Regions from separate parts of the Homo sapiens genome. Here all the other regions are reported to be linked to region 2. Evidence: microRNA targets listed by miRTarBase, many of them from high-throughput screens and not tested one by one. Region 2 holds a microRNA gene; each other region holds the end of a gene's coding sequence.

Region 1 (4,337 bases), not on the chromosome of region 2:
CACACCTGTAGTTCTAGCAACTCGGGAGGCTAAGGTGGGAAGATCGCTGGAGTCTGGGAGGCAGAGGCTGTAGTGAGCCAAGATTGTGCCACTGCACTCCAGCCTGAGCAACAGAGCAGGACTCAGTCTCAAAAAAAAAACAAAAACAAAAACAAAAAACAGTATACTATTTAACATGGCAAACTCTTTATTAGTAGTTCTTCTCTCTCCTTTCCCCACAGGTCCACGAATCTTACAAGCACCTGAAGTCACTGCAGTCCAAGCTCTGAAGTGTCACAAGGACAAGTTTAATCTGCTTCAGAAAGCGCCTGTGTGCAACTCAAATTTTGTGGAATCTTTTTCGAATTCAAATAGCTATAGAGCAAATGATAAATTGACCCCTTTTTATAAATGGAGGGAAAAAATGAACAGATTTCAGAGATTAAATGAAAAAAAGCAGATGTTTTAAGTGCAATTAACACTGAAAGAGACCTGTTAAACCATTCAGAAAAAGCTTAAGAAATGCGATATGACTTCCTTTTGTAATGCTGCTGATCCCAGTAGACTATGACTTTTGATAATTAGCAGAATTTAACTACTGAGTAGTTGATTATTTTCACATTTTAATTGCTAATCACTGGCTATATAAGTGTTTTTAAGCAAAGGTATTTTTGAAGTGGTGTAGAACCCTTCCAAGCTTTCCTGCTCAGTGTTCTACCAGACTTACCCTGGGGCCTGGCTTAAAAGCAGGATTGAAGAAAAGGGACTGGGGGAAGGAAACTTATTGGAAAACTTGATGCGAATGAGTTTCTGCTTGGCACAGTCTCTGCCTGCTTGCTCTCCTTTGCTGATGGATTGCATTTATCAAACTATTCATGCTAGCATTTTTCCAACGAGGGAACTTATTCCGCACGGGCCTACTGTAGGACCATTGTCTCGTGTAATTAGGAATTTTCCATTTGAAGGATTGCTAAATTGTCACAGTAGTAGGAAGTATAGGGAAACCTCTCAGCTGTGGCACTGTTGTAGCTTTGGAGTGCAGAGTGTAACTCTGGGACAATCAGATTTCACATATTCTGTCATCTTGGCATAAGCCATTAAAAGCTTGGAGATTACTGTATTTGGCATTAAAAAAAAATGTCACTTAGGTCAGCACTCCCAGACGTAGCACAGAAAAACCCTTTGACACAAACCATGTGTTCTGATTTTTGGTTCAGAAAATATTGAAACTGTGAGTTGTTTTTTTTTTAACAACTGGGAAAAAACAAAAACAAAAAACTATAGTTAGAAAAATGGAAGTTCCATAGGTTCTATTTCTTACTCTATGTATGGCTTTGTTTTCAGTCTATTTCTAGGAGCTTTCTCTGAATCGCTAATTGTCCTTTCAGTTGAAATCTAATTTATACAATCATTCTATACTTAAAGGTTAAATACATCTTAATTAATTTTTTCTTAAAGTCAATGTAAGTCACTTTGTTTTGTTTTTTTTTAATCTACGCCATATGCCTCATGAAACCAGCTGTTCTAGAATCAGTCCTGAGAATATGGCTTAATTCCATGGAAACATAACTCCTATCTTGGGACCTGACATAATATCTATCTATCCTGGGGAACTGGTAATATGAGACTTATAGGTTACAGCAGAAATGCTACATGTTGACAAAAGCCTTAATCGTTCCACTGGGAGAACTAATTGATAATTGTGTTAAGATTGAAGATTAACCCTGTGTTAATCTCACTTGAGTCTATCCTGACAGTAGTTCAGATTCTGGAAAATGATAAACTGACCTGCTAGATGTAGAATTGTTTCAAAATTAGTGTTGAAATACCTTGTTCACAGATGAATATCTGGGCAGGATCTGAGGGTGTTTGGAATGACACCCCCCAATCCAGTTGCATAGATGGGATGTCTTTGCAGGTTTGAGGAGATCATCGACCTGCAGAGCCCCCTTTGACCCAGTACCTCACGTTTTATTTAAAATCTAAATCTGGGGCCAGGCGTGGTGGCTCACGCCTGTAATCCAAGCACTTTGGGAGGCCGAAGCGGGTGGATCACCTGAGGTCAGGAGTTTGAGACCATCCTGGCCAACATGGTGAAACCCCGTCTCTACTGAAAAAAATACAAAAATTAGCTGGGCATGGTGGTAGCACGCGCCTGTAGTCCCAGCTACTCGGGAGGCTGAGGCAGGATAATCGCTTGAACTTGGCGGGTAGAGGTTGCAGTGAGCCAAGATGGTGCCACTACACTGCAGCCTGGGTGGCTGAGCGAGACTCCGTCTCAAAAAAAAAATCTAAATCTGACATTTGATGCTATTTTTATTAATATTGGAATGTTCTGTCTTGAACTTTATTCAATATAATCAAGAATAAAGATAGAGTAAACGTCACTGATTTGTACTATTAAGAGAGAAAAAATATGCCACACAACTAAACATAGGTTTAAATTATGAAGAAATTTAGAATAGAGGTTTATTAGATTTAGGGAACACTAAGAACAAAAAAGGAAGGAGTGATACCTGCCTGAGTGGACAGCTGTAAATCAGCTGTAATTACTGCAGTTGTACCAATAGTTGTGAGTGGCTCCAGTCACTTTAGGAGTCCTTGGAAGTACTTGGTACACATTTGTTGGCTGTACCTTAAAGGAAGTGGCAAGTCCAGTTTGTTCTCTCTACCACACTAGACTGCCACTGACAAGTTTGGGTCTGTTGGATTCAAAATTTTGTAAGCCATTTTCACAAGTACAAAGATACATTTTAACCTTGTCTTCTCCAAAATTACTGAGTAGGAATTTTATTTTTATCTTTTTGAGACAGGGTATCACTGTCACCCAGACTGGAGTGCAGTGGTGGGATCTTGGCTTACTGTGACCTCTGCCTCCCGGGTTCAAATGGTCCTCCCTCCTCAGTCTCCTGAGTAGCTGGGACGACAGGCACGTGCCACCATGCCCAGCTAATTTGTTCTATTTTTTCTGTAGAGACGGGGTTTTGCCATGTTGCCCAGGCTGGTCTCAGACTCCTGGGCTCAAGCGATCATTTCGCCTCAGCCTCCCAAAGTGCTGAGATTATAGGTGTGAGCCACAGCATCTGGCCCAGAGTGAGGAGAATTAATGAGATTTTTTGTGTGTGTTAGATAATATTGATTTAAGCCTTTTTTTAAAAAGTACTCTCAACCAAATACAAAATTGAAAATGTGAGGTTTAATAGAAATGTGTTGGCTATTTGCAATGGATTTTCTTCTTGCCCAAGTGTTTGGAGTTCTACTTTATGCTCTGTATTTAAAAATTAGTGACCTCAAAGCAGAGTTGATGACACAGGCTTTGGGGCCCTCATGTTCTTGTCTTTAGAACATATCACTACTAAGTATCAGCTTATCTTCAGAACATTACAACATTCACCGTGTTCATATGCTTTCTGAGAAGTCACCACTTGTAATTTCAGATCACATACACCTGAAGGCATTTTATAGTTCCTAAAGTTAACATGTTAGATCTTTTTTTTCCACCCCATGAGGGTCTCACTCTCACCCAGGCTGGAATGCAGTGGTGTGATTGTAGCACACTTTGGCCACCAACTCCTGGGCTCAAGTGATCCTCCTGCTTTGGCCTCCTCTGAGAAGCTGGGATTACTGGTGCACACCACCACACCTGGCTAATTTTTTATTTTTTTTTATTTTTGGAAATAGGGTATGGCTATGTTGCCTTGGGCCCGTCATGAACTCCTAGCCTCAGGTGACCCTCCCACCTCAGGCCTCCCAAAGGGTTGGGATTACAGGAGTGAGCTACTGCACTGGGCCAACATGTTAATTTTTTTTTTTTTTTTTTTGAGATGGAGTCTCCCAGGCGGGAATGCAATGGTGCGATCTCGACTTCACTGCAATCTTCACCTCCCGGGTTCGAGCGATTCTCCCACCTCAGCCTCCTGAGTAGCTGGGATTACAGGCACCTGCCATCACGCTCGGCTAATTTTTGTATTTTGAGCAGAGATGGAGTTTCACCATGTTGGCCAGGTGATCTGCACTCCCACTCCCCCCACACTTCCCAAAGTGCTGGGATTACAGGCATAAGCCACAAGCCACCTCACCCAGCCAACATGTTACATCTTAATTCTTGGATTTTCTTCACTGCAGGGCTTTGGGTGGAGAAATAAAACTCTTCAAATGCATGATCTTGGAGATCCCTGTGAATCAATAATTCTTTAGACAACTGCGGCTCAAAATCCCTCCTTTCCCTTTTCCGAGTTATTCCATCCATCTTATTAGAAAGGAAGTGAATTAGGTGTAGGTGGTCTGTAACACCTGCACATCTTTTTATACGTGTAGAGGGTATGCCTGGGATATATAGGTTGTCTTCAAGCAGTAGC
Region 2 (7,510 bases):
CGAGATGGTTATCCACAGACTCCCATCTTCCTAGCAGGTTGACCTCACTAGGAAAAGTCGTTTCATTACATCTGGCAGGTCCCATCCCTGACCCAATCTCAGCTGCCAAGAGGAATGCCACTGTGCCTTACTCCACCAAATGGAATAGAGCAGGAAAAATCCCTCAGCAGGAACAGTGGGCAGCTGTTAACATGCAAAGGAAGATGGGCAAATGAGTGAGCAAGAAAAAGGTATGGCCACCGTAGTCCTCCATATGCACCACAACAGGACATAGGCTGTGCCCTCTAGAAACTGCTATTTTGTCTGAAACCTGAAGAAGATTTAGGGTCATTCTTTTTATTCTGTTTTAAATGGGGTCTCCCTCTGTCACCCAGGCTGGAGTGCAATGGCATGATCTTGGCTTACTGCAACCTTTGCCTCCCGAGTTCAAGCAAATCTCCTGCCTCAGCCTCCTGAGTAGCTAGGACTACAGGTGCCTACCACCACACCTGGCTAATTTTTTTATTTTTTATTTTTTTAAGTAGAGGTGGGGGTTTCACCATGTTGGCCAGGCTGGTCTCAAACTCCTGACCTCAAATGATCCACCCACCTTGGCCTCCCAAAGTGCTGGGATTACAGGCATGAGCCACCATGCCCAGCTGGATCATTTTTAAACCACAAATAAGCCAGTGTAAATTGATTTCCTCTGCGCTGTAATGCTCATGAAATATGAAGAGTCTTGGTCCAGGGCATCTCCCCATAGTACCTGGGGTGTTCTGAGCACACAGGGCACTCTCCACACATAAGGTGGTGCCAACAGCTGCCGGACACAGGAGAGGCAGCCCAGGCTACTGCAGTCACATGGTAATGTCACGTGCCATAAACACATAAGAAAGCCAGGGGATGCTCCCAGGAAGTTGCAGGGTATCAGCCAGAGTCCCAGAAGGAAGATGGCATTCCCAAAGGGTTTAGCTGAAGGGATTTTAATGAGGGGATGATTTATAGAGAGGTGGGCAGATTTCACAGAACCACAAAAGATGGTGAGATACCCAGGAACCTCACCATCCTGGGACTGTGTATTCATAGGTTTGTCACCAAATTTTTGCTAAAACTCAAGGTGCATATTATTGGGGTGCTATTTGGCATAGAAAACATTTGTCCAGGAAATTTTCTAATATCATGTCAAGTTAAACATAATTCATTGCAAATAAGAGGTACAAGGCATAGTATAATAGCAAGCTAGCACAAACAAAATTTGTAGACTTGCTAAAACATGGGAGAACAGCGTAGGCCAGAATAACAGTGATTAAGAGTTCAGGCTCTGGTGCTGGAGTCCCTGGGTTCAAATCCTTACTAGCTATGGGATCATAAGTGAATTTACTCATGTGTAAAATAGAGGTAATATTACTTATCCCATAAATTGTTATGAGGATTAAAGGATTAAATGCAATATTTGTAAGATGCTTAGAACTTTACTGGCACATAAATACTAGCATTATCTACAAAATTATACTACCCTTCCTCCGTTCACTCAATAAATATATAGTCAGGAGCCACATAACAATGTTTCAGTGAATGAGGGACCACATATACAATGGTGATTTCTTAAGATTATAGTATCATATTTTTATGTATCTTTTCTATGTTTAGATGTGCTTAGATACACAAATACTACTATGTTACAATTGCCCACATTATTCAGTACAGTAACGTACTATAGGTGTTTGTAGCCTAGGAACCATAGGCTAGACCAGATAGTCTAGGTGTGTAGCAGGCTACACCATTTAGGTTTGTGTAAGTATACTCTGATGCTCTCATTACGAAACTGCCTAACAATGCATTCTTTAGTAGGTATCCCCGTTGTTAAGTCACACATGACTGTGTATTAAATATTTACTATAGGCATCATCCTAGGCTCTGGGGAAAGTGGTAAGAAAAAAAAGACTACCTTTCCTGATGGACTGGGAAGAAAACATTAACTAATAATCACACACAGAAATAAAATCAAAACCATGAGTGGTGGTGCTTGGAGCCATAAGAGCTGGTAATGACTATACAGGGGTAGGCCTTCTTGAGGAAGTGACATTTACCTATGACCTAGATGAGTTTACTAGGGAAAGTTCATTAGGTAAAGATGAGAGGGGGAAAAATACCAGGCAGAGGAAGCACTATGTCCTCTGTGGCAGAAAGGATCATGGCAGGCATATTAGTCAGGACCCAGCCAGGAAAGCAAAACCCACTCTAGGTGATTTGATAGAGGGAATTTCATACGGGGAGTCAGAGGAGTTGAAAGAGCTCCCAGGGGAACCCTGAGAGTAGCAACTCCAGGAAGCTGGGACTACTGTATTTGTTTGCTAGGGCTGCAGTAACAAAGTGCCACAGACTGGGTGGCTTCACACAGAAAGTTATTGTCTCAGAGTTCTGAAGGCTGGAAGTCCAAAATCAAGGTGTCAGAAGGGGTAGTTCCTTTTGAGGCCTATGAGGGAAGGATCTGTTCCACGCCTCTTTCCTTGACTTGTAGATGACCATTTTCACCTATGTCTCTTCACATCGTCTTCCCTCTGTGTGTGTCTATCTCTGTCCAAACTTCCCCTTTTTATAAGGACAACATTCATATTGGATTAGGGTCCACCCTAATGACCTCACTTTAATTCGGCTACTCTATAAAGACCACAACCCTAAATAAGGTCACACTCTAAAGTACTGGGGGTTAGAACTTCAACACATGAACTTGCAGGGGAGACACAATTCAACCCATAGCACCACCCTGGAAGCTGGAGAACAAGGAAAGAAACAGTTTCTGGAGCCTAAGACAAGATAAGCTGGAACAAAGAGGGCCTGCCAAGATGGGTAGCAGGGATCACACAGAGATGGCTGTGTAGTGGGAACTGCAGCCACAGAAGAGACTCCTGAGAAAGAGAAGCAGGAGAAGTACTCTGGCTTCTCCTTCCTTCACCTCCAATATCTTTTGCCCTCCCTCACTCCCCATTGGCTGAACTTTACTGGAAGGCAGTTGGCTCTGGAGCCTGGAACAGCCCCCAGTGACACAGAGCAGATCGGGGGACCACGGGATGGGAAGGGTGGACATGGCTCTGACAGCAACAATGTAACACCCATGCAACGAGTCTGCGAGGCCGAATGGAAGCCAGCTGGCTGCAGGGGAGAGAGCAAGAGAGTCTGGCAGAAGGTGCACCTGGAGAAGGAAGTAGAGGCCAGGCCAGGTAGGAGTTTGGTCTGCATGCTAAGAGCCATAGAAATATCCAAAGGTTTTTAATAGAGCTGGGGGAGAGGCGGTGATGTGATCAGAGATGTGTTTTGAAAAGACCTATCTGGCTATGAAGTGGAGAGTGGGTTGAGGATAGTGGGGCAGATCAGTTAGAAGGCTACGCCTAAGAGAAAGCCTGTTTTACAAAAAGAGGGAGCTCCTGCTGCCCCTCTCTTTCCCTGGAGTTTTCATACCCTCCACGTGTACTAGACATGTGTATCTGCCAGTCAAAGCCACCCCTCCCCTGGTGCAGAGGCCCGCTCCAAGCTCTCATTGCCCAGTGTCCTTTTTCTAGATCCTCTCCTGGTTCACTTCCTTTCTCTCTGGGCAGTCCTTCCCATGCTGCAACACTGATTCTTCTTTTGTCACCCACCTGCTGCAAGGGGGGCCCTTGTCACCCATCTCACCCATCACTCTGGCTTAATGGTGCTGACTGAGTCCACGGCTTTGGTGGCCACCCATATGTTGCTGCTGCTTCTCAGATCTGTATTTCCAGACATGATTTCTCTCGTGAGAAAAATCAGCCTGCCAGATATCTCCACTGGAATGTCCAAAGGAATTGGAATCATGAGCTCAGCATGTCTAAAACTGAACACATTATCTTCCCCTCGCACGTGGACCCCTGTAACCTGCCCTTCATCCTGTGTTCCCTATCCTCCTTATGTCCCACCCCCACTCCTGTTTGAATATTTCACCAGAAACAGGAGTGGGGGGTGGGACGTAAGGAGGATGGGGGAAAGAACATCATCCTAAACTATTCCCTCTTACTCCCCCACATCCCATTGCTGTCCAAGTCCTGTTGGCTCTGTCCTAGATATCTGTCAAAATCCACTTTTCCTGCTACTTCCCTAGCCCAGGTCCTCATTTTTATGTGGGTTCATGCAGTGGTCTCCTAGCTGGCTTCCTGCCTCAAGCCTTGCCCTGGCCGGTCCACTTTTCCTACAATCAAAGTGACATCTACCAGTGTAAATAGATCATGTCCTTTCTCTGCTTAAAATCCCTTCAGTGATTTCTTATCGTCCTCAAGTCAAGTCTGATTACTATCTCTGCACAGTGCCCAGCCCACAATAAATGATTGGTGATTAAATGAATAAATGACAAACCAATATAGAAAAATTGCTAAGTGTGGAAATGAAGAAAAGATGCCATTTTTTTTCCCCTGGAAGTCTTTCCGACTGTCCAAGACTCAATCTGGATCTATCCTTGGGTGTGTTTGTATTGTACTTCTCACACTATACTAAACCCATCTACTTACCTGTCTGTTTCCTACTGGAATGTTCCTTGGTTGCTACTATATCTCTTAGCACAGCTCCTGGAAGAAAGTAAATGCTCAAAAAATATTTGATGAATGAATGAATGATAAGGAGAGCTCTGGGCTGGGGCTGACTATGAAATGCTTATTAGGAGCAGAGTGTGTCTGTCCTGGTTCCAAAGCACTGGGGGAACCAGGATGGGTAGAGAGGCTGAAGGCAAGCCCTTTAGGGGAAGGATAGCAGTGACGAAGGCTGAAAGATCAACAGCAATACATTTTTCTCAGGAGACTTCTTTGGGGCAGTGTTTTCTAAGCTGGGTTCCAGGGACCACTGGTCTTGCGAGATGCTCTATCTAGGGTTCTATATCAAATCAGCATGTAGAAACATGCAGCCCATACCCCTTGTGTACATCAGCATCTCAAAGAGTCTGAGAAGTCCTGCAGTTGAAAAACCAACACTTTAACCCTTTTAACTCAGTATTTCCTGAACTTATTCCATAAGTTTGAATATACAAAAATAAAGTTTTTTGCTTAATACTCAGCAACACCCCCTTCCACAAGATATACTGGAATAAATAGTGTTTGGTGGTCATGAGTATTTTAGGAAAAGGGCAGGAGAAGCTTGAATTTCCCCCAGTGTGCCTTGGGTGAGCACTGTGGTTATAGCCACTTGATGAGAACAGTCAGAGGAAGGCTGCTCTGGGCCATCAAGTGCAGACTGTATAGGACAGGAGAAGGGTGGGAACAGAGACACCCCTGAAGGGGTTGTAGATTCAGGGGGAAAGGTGATGGATGGCCTGGACAAAGATTGTGGTGGAAACAAAATCAATGGGCACACGATTTTCCCTTCTTGGAAGAACCTCTGAAAGGAGAAGCCCTATTCACCCCGACTGCCTGGCTTAGGCCACACCCCTAGAAATGCAGCTACAACCAGGGCAAACCATCAACAGCATCTTCTCAGCACCCATGCGATCCCAAGTAGGCATCCGAGGACATGCAAAAGAGAAGCATGTGTCCTTTTGTGGTCAAAGTCTGTTTTCTCTCTTGGAGCAGGTATGCTTCTGATGGTGCTGCAAGCAGCAGGGGGTAAGGCTGCAAGCTGGGCTAAAAACAGCCCCACCCCCTCTAGCCACAATCAGCTGTGGGATAAAAGCCCCTAAAGACCAAGACTGTACTCATGTCTGACTCATCTCTGCTTCCAGCTCTCAGCTAAACCTGCCCAGAGGAGAGCATGGCAGACAGGAGGGCGCTTGCTCAGAAGCCTCTAGGTTAGAGGTAAACAGGACTAAGGTTAATAAAGAAATTCATAATGAGGGTATAGCAACTGTACCCCCACCCCATCACCAGATGATGACCTGGTCTGAGAGAGGAAACATGCAGGTGGGTCACATAACTCAATGTAAAGCAGGTAGCGCACCATGCCTGCATTTAAGGGCTCAGCAGGTGTTACTTATTACTATTATTTACTCCTATGCAAGTAACTGAAAAAAAATTACTTCATTTAAGATCTTTAGCAAATACTTTTGGTGTTAACTCTTTCAGGGACACTTCTTTTTTAAAAATTTATTTTTTAATATAAATGGGACAGGGTCTAGCTATGTTGCCTAGGCTGGTCTCGAACTCCTAGGCTCAAGGGGTCCTCCACCCTCAGCCTCCCAAAGTGCTGGGATTACAGGCACGAGCCACTGCATCTGGCCTGAGGGACACTGCTAACGCAGTACCTGGTGCTTTTCTGGCCCCTAAGCCCATGGGCTTAGGAAAAAATTAAGTCAGTGCCAAAGAGGACCCCAAACCCCACCATTGTTTCACAGACAGTGTTCAGTATGGCCTGTACCTCAGGGTAATCACTTCATTTTGCTCTTTTCTCTCCAATGCTCTCAGTGTGGAGGGAACTGGGAGGACCTGTCTGACCACAAACAACCCACCTGAGGAGGCCCTGCTGCTCCCGGAGGGTGCTCCTGCCAGAGTTCTCCTAGTTCCTTGCAAGGAGCCCTGGAAAAACAATCCCACCCTGGGTCTAACATAGTCTCGGGGACTTTTAAACCAATGCCCAGCTAGAAAAAACATCTCAGGCAGTTCGCGGATAGAAGAGGAAATAATATTAAGAGCCTGCCATATGTTGAATGTTTACTATGTCTCAGCAGCATATAAATGCTTTAGTTTCTTACAGAAGCCCTCCAAGGTGGGTACTCTTATTATCCCCTTTTTACTAATGAAGAAACTGAGACTTAAGGAGGTTAAATACCTGGTAAGTAGATAGAGTAGGGATCTGACCTAAGCTGTCCAACTCCAGGGCTCATGCTCTTAACACTGTTTATCCTGCTTTCCCAGGAAACTACAGAGGCCCTTTGGTGCTCCCCAGCTCTCCTTGTTTTCCTGTTTCTAAGCATCTGAGTGCATCCTGATAGCTGTGGACAGCAGAGATTTGGAACAGGAGATTGAAGAAGTCTCATCTACTGCCATGCTTGGCACATAGTAGGCACTCAACACATGCTAGACTCTCCCCACCTCCTGTTGCTTCTTGGCACCAGGCTTCACTCTGGACAAGAGTTAACATCTCATCCTTTACCCATGTCTTCTTTGACTGAACATCTCGCTATTAGTGGGAGATGGGTCAAAGAAGTATTCACTCATCCTTTCATCCAACAATACTGACAGAGCACCTGCCCTGTGCCAGGCTCAGCCAGAGGCTGGAGATAAAGACATGAATGAGACCCCTGGTGACGGGTGAGAGACAAAGCAAAGGGCTCATTTCCATAGAGGATGATGGGGATTCACATATGGGGTTGGGCAAGGCACACAATAGAGCAGGGTGATATGGTTGGCTTTGTGTCCCCACCCAAATCTCGTCTTGAATTGTAGTTACCATAATCCCCATGTGTCATAGGAGGGACCTGGTGGGAGGTAATTGAATCATGGAAATGGTTTCCACCATGCTGTTCTTGTGATAGTGAGTGAGTTCTCATGAGAGCTGATGGTTTTATAAGGGGCTTTTCCCCTCTTCACATTGGACT
Region 3 (7,510 bases), not on the chromosome of region 2:
CTGTAGTCCCAGCTATTCGGGAGGCTGAGGCAGGAGAATGGCGTGAACCAGGGAGGCGGAGCTTGCAGTGAGCCGAGTTTGCGCCACTGCATTCTAGCCTGGGTGACAAAAGCGAGACTCCGTCTCAAAAAAAAAAAAAAAAAAGTTCCATCCTGGCCAACGTGGTTCTGGCTCCAGGCTGCCACCCCTCCCCCAAAGGATGCCACCCCAGATAGGGGTCCTCGGCCTGCTCCAGCACCTGCCTGTCCCATGACGGCTGCACACTGGGGTAGGAAACGGCCTCCGCATCCTCCTCTCCTCCCCCCAGGACTACCCTTAACCCACTCAGGGCTTCGGTCAAGGCCCATGCGCTCCCCAAGCCCAAGGTAACCCTGTGCAGGAGGCAAAGGTGGTACAAGGCACAGCCCATCCAGCTAGTTTGGCGCCGACAGCACCCACCAAACAGAGCCATTTACCTTTAAAAAAATCACTGCCAGCTGTGGTGACACACCTGTAATCCTAGTGCTTTGAGAGGCTGAGGTGGGAAGACTGCTTGAGCCCAGGAGTTCCCAAGAATATCCTGAGCAACATAGTGAGACCTGTCTCCACAAAAACATAAAAAATTAGCCAAGTGTGGTAGTGCACACCTATGTCCCAGTTACTTGGAGGCTGGGGCAGGAGGATCACTTAAGTCCAGGAGTTCAAGGCTGCAGTAAGCCATGACTACAACACTGCACTCCAGCATGGGTGACAAAGCAAGCATCGTCTCAAAAAAAATAAATAAATAATTTTGGCCAGGTGCCGTGGCTTACGCCTGTGATCCCAGCACTTTGGGAGGTCAAGGCGGGTGGATCACGAGGTCAGGAGTCCAAGACCAGCCTGGCCAAGATGGTGAAACGTTGTCTCTACTAAAAATACAACAATTAGCCGGGCATGGTGGCGGGCCCCTGTATTCCCAGCTAGTCGGGAGGCTGAGGCAGAGGGTGCAGTGAGCCGAGACTGCATCACCGCGCTCTAGCCTAGGAGACAGAGCGAGACTCCGTCTCAAAAAAAAAAAAAAAAAGTTTTTTTTTAATCGCCAAATGTTCTGGAGAGGCCCCCTTCTCTTCTGTTCTCCTGCAGTCTGGGCTGCAGGCCAAGGTGGTCCCTGTGGGTGGAGACAAGGGCCGGTTCCACCTGACACTACAGACCCCTTCACATGGGAGGGATACACTTCCAGACCCATATATCTCCGAGTAGCCATCTTTGGCGAGATTTACTGGTACTGCAGTGGAAAGGAAGGACTCGCTGTACTGGGTGAAAAAAGTGAAAACATGGGACTCCTATCGCAGACTCTGACAGCAGAACCTGGTGTGGGTTATTTGGGAGGAGGGAGGGAGGAGGGAGAAAGGAAGAGCTGTTGTGGGTGCTATCAGCGAAACTGCACCGGGGGCATGAAGCTCAGTTTGGTCAGCACCACCTGGCAGGTGTACCAAAAGCCCACCCGACTGTCCCTGCACGGTAGAGAGGCAGGAGCGCCTCTCCCTGCACGGATGGTGCCCCGGAGGCTACCAGGGGCGGCCGAGGACACTGATGCTGCATCCCAGGAGGACCTGTCCTTCAGCTGTAATCAGCAGACACGGGGGACAGGATGGCCAGGGGCACAGCACCTTTTCTGTAAACCCCACACCCTGACCCCCCCCACCCAAAAAAGCAAAAAACAACTATTTGTCTACACATACAATTTTATGCCCAGATGGAAAAAGATCCAAATGATTCACAGTGGTGATGGCTCTGAGGGTGACGCTGTCTGCTTAAGGCCCAGGGAAACCCAGGTGCAAACTCACACTCATCACCCAGGCAGCCACAGCCATGAACACAACGTGGGCTTGGGAACAGGGAGCCCAGACCCAACCACTCCCTCCTAGAAGACGAAGAGGAAAGCACATGTGCTGAACAAGTACCCTGAGTCCCACCTGCAGGAAAAGGTGCAGGTAAGGAATACGGACACGGGAGGAATACGGACACGGAGGGAACAGCGACACGGGGGGAACAGCGACACGGGGGGAACAGCGACACGGGGGGAACAGCGACACGGGGGGAACAGCGACACGGGGGGAACAGCGACACGGGGGGAACAGCGACACGGGGGGAACAGCGACACGGGGGGAACAGCGACACGGGGGGAACAGCGACACGGGGGGAACAGCGACACGGGGGGAACAGCGACACGGGGGGAACAGCGACACGGGGGGAACAGCGACACGGGGGGAACAGCGACACGGGGGGAACAGCGACACGGGGGGAACAGCGACACGGGGGGAACAGCGACACGGGGGGAACAGCGACACGGGGGGAACAGCGACACGGGGGGAACAGCGACACGGGGGGAACAGCGACACGGGGGGAACAGCGACACGGGGGGAACAGCGACACGGGGGGAACAGCGACACGGGGGGAACAGCGACACGGGGGGAACAGCGACACGGGGGGAACAGCGACACGGGGGGAACAGCGACACGGGGGGAACAGCGACACGGGGGGAACAGCGACACGGGGGGAACAGCGACACGGGGGGAACAGCGACACGGGGGGAACAGCGACACGGGGGGAACAGCGACACGGGGGGAACAGCGACACGGGGGGAACAGCGACACGGGGGGAACAGCGACACGGGGGGAACAGCGACACGGGGGGAACAGCGACACGGGGGGAACAGCGACACGGGGGGAACAGCGACACGGGGGGAACAGCGACACGGGGGGAACAGCGACACGGGGGGAACAGCGACACGGGGGGAACAGCGACACGGGGGGAACAGCGACACGGGGGGAACAGCGACACGGGGGGAACAGCGACACGGGGGGAACAGCGACACGGGGGGAACAGCGACACGGGGGGAACAGCGACACGGGGGGAACAGCGACACGGGGGGAACAGCGACACGGGGGGAACAGCGACACGGGGGGAACAGCGACACGGGGGGAACAGCGACACGGGGGGAACAGCGACACGGGGGGAACAGCGACACGGGGGGAACAGCGACACGGGGGGAACAGCGACACGGGGGGAACAGCGACACGGGGGGAACAGCGACACGGGGGGAACAGCGACACGGGGGGAACAGCGACACGGGGGGAACAGCGACACGGGGGGAACAGCGACACGGGGGGAACAGCGACACGGGGGGAACAGCGACACGGGGGGAACAGCGACACGGGGGGAATACCAACACGGGAGGAACAGCAACACGCAGGGAATATCGACATGGGTGATGCCTGCAAAGCACAGCATCAATCCCAAGTGACTCCTGTACAGGGCGGCCCCTTCCACCCTCCTTTCCTTGGAGACAGTTGGCTGGGCTAGACCTGTGTCACGGGCTGGCAGAGCAGCCCACCTACCCATCTGTCCTCCTGGAGGGGACAGCCTGTGGCAGGAGAGCCCAGAGCAAGGCCACCAGCTACACTGTGATACCGGTGGCAGAAAGACCCAGACCACAGCGCCCGTGTGCGCCCACTGAGCCAGCCAGCTCAAGGGTGGCATGTGTACCCCTGCAGAAACAGAGCGGATGAGGATGGCTATGTGTTAACAATGTGAACCTCAGGAATTCCCTCCAAAAAATCTCCCACGAAGTGAAAAAGGGAAGGAGCTCCCATCATCTACACATTAGTTAGCAGTTATCCTTTTCAGAAGGGCTTCATTTTGGGTTTTTGGGGGGTTTTTTGAGACAGAGTCTTGCTGTCGTCCAGGCTGGATGCAATCTCGGTTCACTGCAACCTCTGGCTCCCGGGTTCAAACGATTCTCCTGTCTCAGCCTCCCAAGTAGCTGTGATTACAGGTGTCCGCCACCACACCCAGCTAATTTTTGTATATTGGTAGAGACAGGGTTTCACCATGTTGGCCAGGCTGGTCTCGAACTCCTGACCTCAGGTTATCTGCCTCCCAAAGTGCTGGGATTACAAGCGTGAGCCACCGCGTCCCCCTTTACTTTGGTCTTAAAGTACCTGCCTGATGTACAGCAGGTATGTTAGAAAGAACTGAAAGGTGTTGGCCAGGAGCGGTGGCTCACGCCTGTAATCCTAGCACTTTGGGAGGCCGAGGCGGGCAGATCCCGAGGTCAGGAGATCGAGACCATCCTGGCTAACAAGGTGAAACCCCGTTTCTACTAAAAATACAAAAAATTAGCCAGGCAAGGTGGCAGGCACCTGTAGTCCCAGCTACTCTGGAGGCTGAGGCAGGAGAATGGCGTGAACCTGGGAGGCGGAAGTTGCGGTGAGCTGAGATCACGCCACTGCACTCCAGCCTGGGCGACAGAGTGAGATTCCGTCTCAAAAAAAAAAAAAAAAGAACGAACTGAGAGGTGGGAAACATAATCAGCCCACATGGGACATGAGTCAAACCATTTTTTTTTTTTTTTTTTTTTTTTTTTTTTTTGAGATAGGGCTTTCTTGTCACCCAGGCTGGAGTGCAGTGGCGGAATCAAGGTTTGCCTCAGTGTCCTGTGCTCAACAGATCCTCCTGCCTCAGCCTTCTTAGTAGTAGCTGGGACTACAGGCATGTGTCACCATGCCCAGCCCCATGGGTCTTTGTTTTCTGCTAGTAACTTCAAAAGGGGACATGCAGTGTAACTCACCTGAGTCCCAAGTTAAGGCTATGGTAGCAGCTGAGCAGACAAGACAGCTTTTCCTAAATAAATGAATGCAGAATGGGGACCCCTCCCTCCTCCCCATGGGAGATGGGCAGCTCAGACACTCAGAAGGTTGTGTGGGAGCGAGCAAACAAACACCCATGCACACCTGGGTCCCGTCAGTCAGATGCAGGGGACAGGAAGTGCCCTGCCATCTACTGGATGCCAGAAGACAAGACGTGACCCACGAGTAAGTCACGGTTTCTGTGAGGTGCTGGTGGCACTGGCACAGGGTCACAGTGAAAAGCCTCTACGCAGAGGACAGCAGAAACCCCCCGCAGCCTCAGGAGGCAGCATCAGATTTATTTATTCCTACTCAACATGACCCGGGAACACAGGAGCAACTCTGTACACTTCTAGAAACTCACAGCTAGCTCCAAAACAATAGAAATTTTAAACTACAAAAGATGAGTTGTATTCAGCAAATATAAAGGGTAATTTTAGACTGTGTGAACGTTTATCAGACTATTTACAGCACCCGGGAGACGGGTTCAGATCTCGCCGGCCTCCTTCTCTTCTGACCTCCGTGAAGCCATCTTCCCGTTGGAGCTCTCAAGCCTCCAGTCCGGGGGCCCTCGCTCGCTCCGCCCGCTCTCCCAGGACTCCTCTCTGGATGCCCGCTCTCTGGAGAACCTGGGAAATGGGAACCAGAGGCTCAGTGGAGGCTGCTGCCCCCCTTCTGCTGGCCGCTCAGGCACTGACGATGGACCCGCAGACCAGGCCAGGCAAGGCCCTACATCCCCTATACCTGGAAACCCCCCGGAGGCCAACCAGACTTGCCCACCACATATGGAGTGTTAGATAGCCATTAAAAAGTGACCTTTGCGAAGATTTTTAATAAGGAGAGCCTTCACTGTAACATAAACAGTGCAAAGGAGAATACAACACTATATGCACAGAACATGACACTACGTAAAAACACAATGGAAAAAAAAATATCAAAAACAAAAACCAAAACAGAGGTAAGCAGGGCCTGGTCAGGACACAAGTCTCAGCCACTCTGAGCATGGACGCAACAGTGCACAGGCCCCAGGACGCAGGCAGGGGACAGTGCCTGTGCAGCCCATCACCTGGCGCCGTGCGAGCTCCTCCACAGCCCTCTCGCCTCTTCCCACACCTGAGTCCCGTTCACGACTCCCCAGCCCTACTCCTGAGGGTGAGCCCAGCCCCATCCCCACCAGACACGGCCCTCAGCAGACCCTGGGAACACAGAGAAGGGCTCACTCCTGGTTGCAGCTACCGAAGGAGTCAGAGTAGTTACTTGTATTTCGCACTTCGGTCCCGGGAAGCCCGACGATGTCCCCGGCTGTGGCTCCGGGAACGGCTGCGGTGGCGCCGATGTCTATCTCGGGACCGGGACCGGGACAATTTCCGTCGCTCTCGGGAGGTAGATCTTGACCGCCTCCGACGCCGATCCCGGGAGCGTGACCTGAACAATCAGAAGGCTCCAAGGCTGAGACTCTATAGGTGCCAACACTATGAGGGCCCCACCCCTCAGCAGATTCTGCTTGCTGCTTTACTGACATTTTCTCCTTTACTCCCACAAATTTAGGTTTAAAATATTTCCATCAGTTAATCTCCAATGGCTAGGTCCTTCCAATGAGGTCTCCTGAAAACATGTGGCCTGGATACTCCTGTCACCCTGCAGGCCCCGACCTTCCCTCTCATTAACACTGGGAACCCTCCACGGCACCAAGCAACCTCTTGCCCTGTGCCCTTCACAAGCCAGCCCTACCTGCCAGGTAACATTTGTAAAGGCATAATCATTAAATATTAAGAAAAATGCTTATGGAAAAAAAAATTTGAGAACATTTTAATGGACCTGGAAACCTACCTCCTGCGATCTCTGGTTCTTGATCCCGACCTAAAAGGGGGAAAAAAAGATGAACAAGGCCAGGCATGGTGGCTCACACCTGTAATCCCAGCACTTCGGGGAGGCCTAGGCAGGCAATCACCTGAGGTCACGAGCTGGAGACCAGCCTGGACAACGTGGTGAAACCCCGTCTCTACTGAGAACACAAAACCTGGCCAGGCGTGGTGGCGGGTGCCTGTAATCCCAGCTACTCAGGAGACTGAGGCAGGAAAATCACTTTAACCTAGGAGGCAGAGGTTGCAGTGAGCTGAGATTGTGCCACTGCACTCCAGCCTGGGCAACAAGAATAAAACTTTGTCTCAAAAAGAAAAAAAAAAAGTGAATGACTTCCCGAAAGCACCCCTATTCCTCACCCTCTTGGGGGAGGACTCCAAATTTAAGAAGTGAGGCACCTCCCCCAAAGACCTGCTGTTTTCAAGCTGCCTGCATGTTCCCAGTCTGAATGGGAAGTGCCAATGCTCCCATCCCCACAGCCACTCTGTGGCACACTCAGTGTCACCTGAGCCTCACAGACAGGCCCACATCCGAGCATCAGACGCAGCCCTGTAACATTACAAGGGCCGTGAAAAGTCTGTGCACACTGACTGTGCTGCACTCAAGTCCTACAAATGATTCTCCAGTCTTTACAACAGACACCAGCACAGAATGTGCAGACAGCGAGTGGGGCACACCAAAAACACAGAAAAGGAAAAGCAAAGCCCGAAGTTCCAGGCACAGGCTTCCTGTCAGGTGAGAGTCATCAGCTCATTCTGCCACACAACCAAGAGGCTGAAAAAGGCAAGCTATGAGGCCTCATTCTATGCCCGTAAGCCATTAAGGTCAAGTGGCCCCATGTACATCCGCAACACAAATGGCCTAAACATGACAGTGCATGTAAAAATGTAAACTCCATGCAAAAAATGGATTGTGTGTTTTGCTTAATATTTTCTTCTATACTGTTTAAGTTTCTCTCCAATCAGAATCTCCTGCTGGTAAAACAACAAACGGCCGGG
Region 4 (7,020 bases), not on the chromosome of region 2:
CAGACCACCAACAACTCCCCAATGAACTCCAAGCCGCAGCAGATTAAAATGCAGTCGACGAAAAAGGGCCCCCTGACGAAACGAGACGAGGGGGGCCCGTCTGGTGGGCCAGCAGTAGGAGCACCCCCACCTGGAGATGAAGCCTCCTCTGTAGGGGCAGGGCAACCAGCTGCGTCCAGCAATCTCCAGCCTCAGGTGAGCACGGGCCCCTCGCAGCTTCGGCATGGTGGTGGGGGCTGTGGCTTTTACTCTGATTCGGTGAGGGTGACATGTAGGCAAGCCTCAAACCTGGCTAGAGGGTCTCCTCCACAGCTCTGGCACTGAAGTGCTCCTAAGAATGAGGCATTTGTCTCTAGAAGCTATAAGGCAGTGCTTCCAAATCAGGGAATACAGCCCACCTGAAACCAGTTTAATTGGCCCTAACTAGCATTTGGTTTTAATGAAATAAAATAGAACAGAAAAATGTCGAAGCTTCCCTTTCATAGTAAGATTAAGTATTGCAAGTATTGCTGGTGTGAGTGTCCAAGTGATATATGTGTGCACTGCAGTCCAGCAGGTTTGAGAGACACTGCCTTAGAGGGTCCTCCTCTGTCCCCTCCCTGACGTGCACACATCCTGAAGGGGAGGTGGCTTTGGGATGTGCCAGTGCGCCTCTTACTCGGCATCTCCTGCCAGCTGTCTCCCACAGGCACTCTCTCCTGGCGTGATGAAGGCCTGGTGCCCCTTGCACCCCTCTCCCCAGCATCTTTCTCCATTGTCCCCTCATTGGAAAAGGAGGCTATGCCTGGATCTGTCTGTCCATTCTGTTATCTGTCTCCCATGGGTCTTTCCTCTGGTTCGTTCGCTTCCTTTCTCTCTCTCCTGCTCTGCTTTGTGCTTCTCTGAACGGCCGCTTCTCACACCCTCATCATGTGTGTCCTACCCACCCTGTAAGGAAGGCAGGGCAGGCACTGGCTCCATTTTAGAGACAGAGGGGAGGTGCTGCATGCAGAGTGACCCAGTAAATTCCTGGTCAGGCTAGGGTGAGGACCACGCAGCCTGCTCACGCATCTTCCGTCCCTGTCTCCCCGCTGCTCAGCACCTCTGCTCTCTGGCCCTGCTCCTGATGGGCCAGTGCTTCTCAAGCTCCTTCTCTCTCTTTCAGCCTAAGCCCAGCAGTGGAGGCCGGCGACGAGGGGGCCAGCGCCACAAGGTGAAGTCCCAGGGGGCCTGTGTGACTCCTGCCAGCGGCTGCTGAACCTTCCCCTGGCCCACCCTCACCACCCAAGGGGTCATCATCTCTGGCCACCACTCCACCAGATGGGCAGAGCAGCTATGACCGCCACCCAGCCCTCCCGCTCAGGCCACAGCCGGAGCCTCCGCATTGCCCCCACCCCCATTTTCCAGGGGGGTTGTAATTTATAAGCTGACGAAGGTAGCCAGACTTCCGGAGGACTGACCATCTCTCACTGTCCTCCCCACCTTCTTCCTCACTCACACATTTTTTGTACATCTGGGCCCTTAGTTTTTATTCTGTTTATTATATGTCTCTGTCTCTCTCTATTGTGTGTGTGTGTGTGTGTGTGTGTGTGTGTGTGTGTGTGGTGCAGGAGTGCCACCCCCAGGGCCCTGTCAACCTCTCTTTTCTCCTCCATGGCTGTCTGCCTGCGTATCTGTCTCTGAGAATCCTCGGGGCGGTCAGGGGATGTCAGGAGGGGAAGGAGCCGCCCTCCCTATCTTGCTGCTCCTCTTGGCACTCAGGGGCACCTTCCATGGAGCCAGACCGGGTGGAGGGGCTTCTGGGATTTGGTGTCTGCTGCTGCCAGAGCAGGAACCCCCAGTCTAGGACTTGGGCATTTTAACAGGGAGAAAGTAGTGGCTTCCCTTTTCTCTCTCTCCTCCTTTTTCCCTTTAAGCCCACAGATTCAGGTCATGCCAAAAGCTCTCTGGTTGTAACCTGGAGACATGTGGAGGGGAATGGCGATGGGATTATAGGACTCTCCCCATCTCGGGCCCTGACCCTGACCCTTGCCACCAACCCAAAGACAGCTGGTGGGTTTCCCCTTGGAGACAATCCTGCGTTTGCCTGGGCCGGCCCTGGCTGCCCTCAGCTTTCGCTGATCTGCCCGGCCTGGAGCCTCCCATCACCCCGCTTCTTGTTGGGCCTCAGGCACTGGTTACCAGAAGGGGGTCTGGGTCTGCTCAGGATCATGTTTTGTAGCACCTCCTGTTGGAGGGGTGGAGGGATGTTCCCCTGAGCCAGGCTGAGACTAGAACCCCATCTTCCCTGAGCCAGGCTGAGACTAGAACCCCATCTTCCCCACCACGCCACCCCTGTGGCTGCTACAGGAGCACAGTAGTGAAGGCCTGAGCTCCAGGTTTGAAAGACCCAACTGGAGCGTGGGGCGGGCAGGCAGGGGTTAGTGAAAGGACACTTCCAGGGTTAGGACAGAGCATTTAGCCTTCTGGAAGAACCCCTGCCTGGGGTGGGACTGTGCAGGCCAGAGAAGGTGGCATGGGCCTGAACCCACCTGGACTGACTTCTGCACTGAAGCCACAGATGGAGGGTAGGCTGGTGGGTGGGGGTGGTTCGTTCTCTAGCCGGGGCAGACACCCAGCTGGCTGGGTCCTTCCTCAGCCTTGCCTCCTCCTGTCCCCAACCCTTTCCTTTCCTCCTGCTTGCGGACTGCTGGTCCCCTCTCCTTCCCTCCTTCCAGCTGTTTCTAGTTACCACCTACCCCTGGCCGTGGACTGATCAGACCAGCATTCAAAATAAAAGTTTGTTCCAAGTTGACAGTGTGGTGCTCCCTGCCCAGCCCCTCCAGGTGGAGGTGCTGCCACGGGAACGCAGTTGCTCTGCCTGCCCTGGGGCCCCTGGCGACAGCTGGGAGCAGGGCAGTGCTGTGAGGAGCCCAGCTTTCCCAGTCAGGCAGGCATGGCTTCCGTGTTCAGGCTCCCTCACCAGCTGGTGACACGGGACAAGCTTACAAACCTTCTCTGAACCTCAGTTTTCTCATTTACAAGAGGCAAAGCCATCCATCACCTTGTGTGGATTCAGAGAATGTGAGGCCCTGGGGTGTCCTACACAAGGGAAAGGCTTGCTCAGTGAGCGGTCTGCACACCGTTAGCCACCCTGCCACCTCTGTGCCCTGGGCAGGCTCCAAAGGAAAGCTCTGGCTGGGACTGCCAGGAGTCTCACACGCTCCTGTTGACATTCCCAGCAGCCGCCCCTGAGGTCGATGTTTGTTCTGTTTTTCTTTTTCTTTTTTGAGACGGAGTCTCGCTGTGTTGCCAGGCTGGAGTGCAGTGGTGTGATCTCTGCTCACTGCAACCTCCGCCTGCCAGTTTCAAGTGATTCTCTGCCTCAGCCTTCTGAGTAGCTGGGACTACAGGTGCACGCCACCACGCCCAGCTAACTTTTTGTATTTTAGTAGAGACAGGGTTTCGCCATGTCGGCCAGGGTGGTCTTGATCTCCTGACCTCATGATCCACCCGCCTCAGCCTCCCAAAGTGCTGGGATTACAGGTATGAGCCACCGCACCGGGCCTGTTCTATTTTTCTAGTTAAGGGAACTGAAGCTCAGAGAGGTGTCACCAGCAGGTGTTCATTCCCATGCCAGCCTTGCCCCCCGGCTTTTCCCAGGCAGGCTCCTGCGTGCCCACTGGCTCCAGCCTGGTCCTCTGTCTCTTGGCTGCTTCACTCCTGCTCTTTGTCCCGACTCTGGCCCTGCTTACAGGGGCCACTACCTGCTGGTGCCTCCATAACAAGCGTCTGGCGTTGAGACCCCTGGCATGGCAGGGGCTTTGGGGTCTGGTTTCCACAAGGCTTAGCCATGGCAGAACCTCGTTTTATTTTAACTCTTTGCCCCTACAAACAAACAGCAGTACTTGCCAGAACCATTCTTGGGATTCAGGAGCTCGGGCGACTGCCTTGGCCTCTGGCCGCACCCAGGAGGGTGGGGTTGGATCTGTGTAGTTGCCAGGCCCACACCTGCCAGCAGGGGGCTGACTGGATCCATGCTTTACTGTGTTTAATGGGGGTAACAGGGGTCCCTACAGCCCTCCCAGCTAAACATTTGGAACAAAACACCAGCCCTTTTGTAGTGGATGCAGAATAAAATTGTTAATCCAATCACCTCCAATGGCAAGGCCTGACCCTTCTGTGTGTGCAGCAGGTGTTTGTGGCGTCTTTCCCAGGAGTAAGGCCTGTGATGGTGGGATGGGGATGGCCAGACCCCTGACTCCACAGTCAGGACTGTTCTGGCTTATCAGCCACCCTGGCACAGAGAAGGTCACAGGGATGAATATGCCACGCACAGGGGCAGCACAGGTTTAGTTGGGTTGGGGGAAGTACCATGGAGCCGGCAGTGTGAGGGCTGTGCTGTGAGGGCCCAGTAGGATTTGAATGTACAGATGGGCAGAGGGCATGTGCCCAGCCCAGGCTCTGGACTCTTGCCACAGTGTGTGGCAACTTCCAGGGGCTTGTTTATTGGTGCTGCGTGGGGATGTCTCCTTTGTTTAGATGGCGTCAGAGGCAGAGCAGGTGTCAGTGAAGGGGAGTGAGCACAGGACCAGCTGTCTCCCAAGAGGCTGAGGAGCTGGCCCAAGGCTTTGGGGGCTGGATTTGTGCCTCACCCAGCTCCTGCCTTGTGGCTGTCTCCACAGTCCTCCCTACTGACTGGCTTTCTGCCTTTGTTTTCTCAGCCATGATGAGGAGCAGCCCTGGGCCAGGTGCCACGGTCAGTATGAGAGGCTCCAGGATCAGGCTAGAGAACCACGCGAACCAGGTCTGGGGAGCTATCTGTGGGAAAGGTCAGGGCCTGTTTTTCTCCTAAGCTGCTGGCTGTTCAAGGGACCTACCTCCTTGTCCCTTCCCAGTCACAGGTCCAAGGGGCAAATAGCGAATTCCCATGGAGGAGAATCACTGCACTCCAAGTGGACGTGGCTGGTAGGTAAGTGTAACTTTTTCTGCTGCTGTTCAGTGGTACTGAGAGACAGGAAAGCCCCACTGCTCCCGCCCCACCCTTTGTGATGGGTTATCAATGACAGCTAATAAAGCCACCTCACTGCTTCCTCATGCCAGCCCTTGACCCACAAACACTGGAGGAGACCTGCCTCAGGTCCCATCCCCCACCACAACTGGGCTTTAGCTGAAAGTTGTGGGTTTCTGAACTTCAGGAATAAGTCTTTGGGGACATTCGTTTGGCCAAGAATTCATTCCCTCATCTGCCCAAGAGCAGCTGCCCTAGGTGATAGGCAAAAGCCACATGAAAGCCACATCCCACAGCTCTTGGGCGTCATTTATTTTTTGCATAGGCATAAATTAGGATCTGGAGATAAAAAACTTAAGAACCAATAGTGCAGCATTTGTGACAGGAGAGCGCAAAACAAACCCTGGCTGCCTCGGGATGGAGCGGGGCGGCCTCACCACCACTGCATCCAGCCTCATGCTCCAGAGCGGATTTGAGGCTCAGTGCTGCAGTGAAGGCCTGCCCGCCTTCTTGCCCCTTCCCCGCAGCCAGACCACCAGACACAGCCGGAACCAGTGCCCCAGGCCCCTCTCCACGGCCAGGAACAAGAAACTGAGTATCACCCAGTGCCCCACAGAACGGGGCTAGGAATCAAGCCCTTAGCTTTTCAGTTAGAAAAACAGACCTTGAAAAATATATACATAATACAGTGGGGCCTGCTGGCTCTAAAAGTCCCCTCCTCCCCCTTCCCTATCCAGGGTAACTTCTGCCAGCCTCTTCCCCCAGCCCCCACCAACTGCCCCACAGAGAACAAACCAGAAGGGCGACTACCTGAACAAGAGCTGCAAGAGCCCAAGGGGGCAGCCTGAGCGGACGACCCCTACATCAGGGCCTGGTTAGATGTGGGGGCCGGTGCAGACAGACCTCGCACCCCGATACCCTGAACGTCCCCACAAGAGCCCAGGAGTTCCATGCTCCCCACTCTTCTTGCTATAACCCCAGATGCTAATGGCCCCAAAGACAGGTCTAGGTCTCCATACCCTGGGAGAATGTGGAAAGCAAGCTCAGGGGCACTGGCAGGCCCTAGCAGGAACAGGGAGCAGGGTGGGCCCCAACCTAGCATCAGGAGAGAGAAAAGCAACTACCGTCCCCAGCAGAGGGGAAGCCTACAGGGTTGGCCCTGGGCCCCTTAGAAGATCACAGCAGCCAGTCCCCTTTAGGGCACAAGAAGCCCCATGGCCCACTGCTACCCTCCCCGGGACAAATACACACTTTTGTCGAAGGCCCTCAGGGACCCTGTGGTTCATGCTTCCCTAGGTGGAGGGCACTAACCTTGTAGGAGAGCTGGGCAGCTCTCCATCAAGTGCTTCCTGCCTGGGGAAGTCCCATCCTGCTCTGGAGCTAAGCACCCTCCTCCCAGAGGGCCTCGCTTCCTTGCCCAGGGGCAGAGGCAGCTCACCTAGCCCAGGCCGTAGCTTGCCCCTCCCACAGCCCTGGCACCTGCTTCATCAGCTCCCAGGCACCAGCCCCTGACCCCAGCCAAGACCAGTCAGGTCCTACCTCTCCCAACTTCCCAGTCCCCCATGATATGCTACATATATACACACTCCCAGGATGGGAAGCAGACGCCACGGGCACAGAGGGAAGGAAGAAGGGAGCTGCTGGAGCCTGCTAACCGCCTCGAGCCACCTGCTGCTCAGGAGACCCTGCCCGTCCTTTTCATCTGCATGGGGCCACAGGCTCCTCTCTTGTGCTCCTAGAAGTCAGAGCGCCGAGCAAGCGTGTGGGGGAAGCGGCGGGGTGCTGTTCACCCACTCCCAGATGGCTGGCAGCAGGCACCAGTAAGCAGGGCTAGTGGGCGGGCTCCCCATGCACTCTGAAGCGGTAGATGCAGGTGTACTCGGGGTGGCCCCAGTTAGTCAGGATCCGCAGCTCCACCACCTGGTACGTGGCCATCGTAGGGGCCTGGGTAGAGAAGAAAGGGATTAAGAGCATCAGAGACCTGTGAGGCCTCACTGACAGAGAAGGTGGGAAGGGGAGACAGCCTCGCCTAGGGCCAGATGGCTCCCCTG

Evidence for each region. Region 2 holds the annotated microRNA hsa-miR-4433a-3p (ACAGGAGUGGGGGUGGGACAU, at 3,906-3,926, opposite strand). A microRNA usually pairs through its seed, bases 2 to 8, with sites in the 3' UTR of a target mRNA and lowers its output. Matches are read on the target gene's strand: a 7mer-m8 pairs with bases 2 to 8, a 7mer-A1 pairs with bases 2 to 7 and ends in A, and an 8mer does both.
Region 1: miRTarBase lists ACOX1 as a target of hsa-miR-4433a-3p. Seed matches in the 3' UTR shown: 7mer-A1 at 2,886-2,892, 7mer-m8 at 2,991-2,997, 7mer-m8 at 3,549-3,555 and 7mer-A1 at 3,894-3,900.
Region 3: miRTarBase lists LUC7L as a target of hsa-miR-4433a-3p. Seed matches in the 3' UTR shown: 7mer-A1 at 4,929-4,935.
Region 4: the mRNA of SUN2 is a reported target of hsa-miR-4433a-3p. Seed matches in the 3' UTR shown: 7mer-A1 at 6,645-6,651, 7mer-A1 at 6,071-6,077 and 7mer-m8 at 5,910-5,916.

The regions. Positions count from the first base shown.
Region 1 is chr17:75,942,680-75,947,016 of GRCh38, reverse strand. It overlaps ACOX1 (acyl-CoA oxidase 1), which reads left to right. Exons shown (of 14, transcript NM_004035.7): 14 at 222-4,337. The coding sequence ends at 269. Among named protein-coding and RNA genes, the nearest start is that of FBF1, 3.8 kb to the right of the region's middle.
Region 2 is chr2:64,337,225-64,344,734 of GRCh38, reverse strand. MIR4433A (microRNA 4433a) reads right to left here and starts at 3,976; the gene lies at 3,896-3,976. MIR4433B (microRNA 4433b) reads left to right here and starts at 3,887; the gene lies at 3,887-3,988. It overlaps LOC105374768 (a long non-coding RNA gene), which reads left to right and starts at 3,026. Exons shown (of 3, transcript NR_189739.1): 1 at 3,026-3,200; 2 at 6,378-6,678; 3 at 6,828-7,510.
Region 3 is chr16:184,062-191,571 of GRCh38, forward strand. It overlaps LUC7L (LUC7 like), which reads right to left. Exons shown (of 10, transcript NM_201412.3): 8 at 6,480-6,509; 9 at 5,907-6,074; 10 at 4,929-5,278. The coding sequence ends at 5,137. Among named protein-coding and RNA genes, the nearest start is that of HBQ1, 7.4 kb to the left of the region's middle.
Region 4 is chr22:38,729,468-38,736,487 of GRCh38, forward strand. SUN2 (Sad1 and UNC84 domain containing 2) reads right to left here. Exons shown (of 18, transcript NM_015374.3): 18 at 5,267-6,913. The coding sequence ends at 6,800. GTPBP1 (GTP binding protein 1) reads left to right here. Exons shown (of 12, transcript NM_004286.5): 11 at 1-195; 12 at 1,145-4,120. The coding sequence ends at 1,237. Among named protein-coding and RNA genes, the nearest start is that of SUN2, 23 kb to the right of the region's middle. RefSeq lists an enhancer at 2,680-2,729.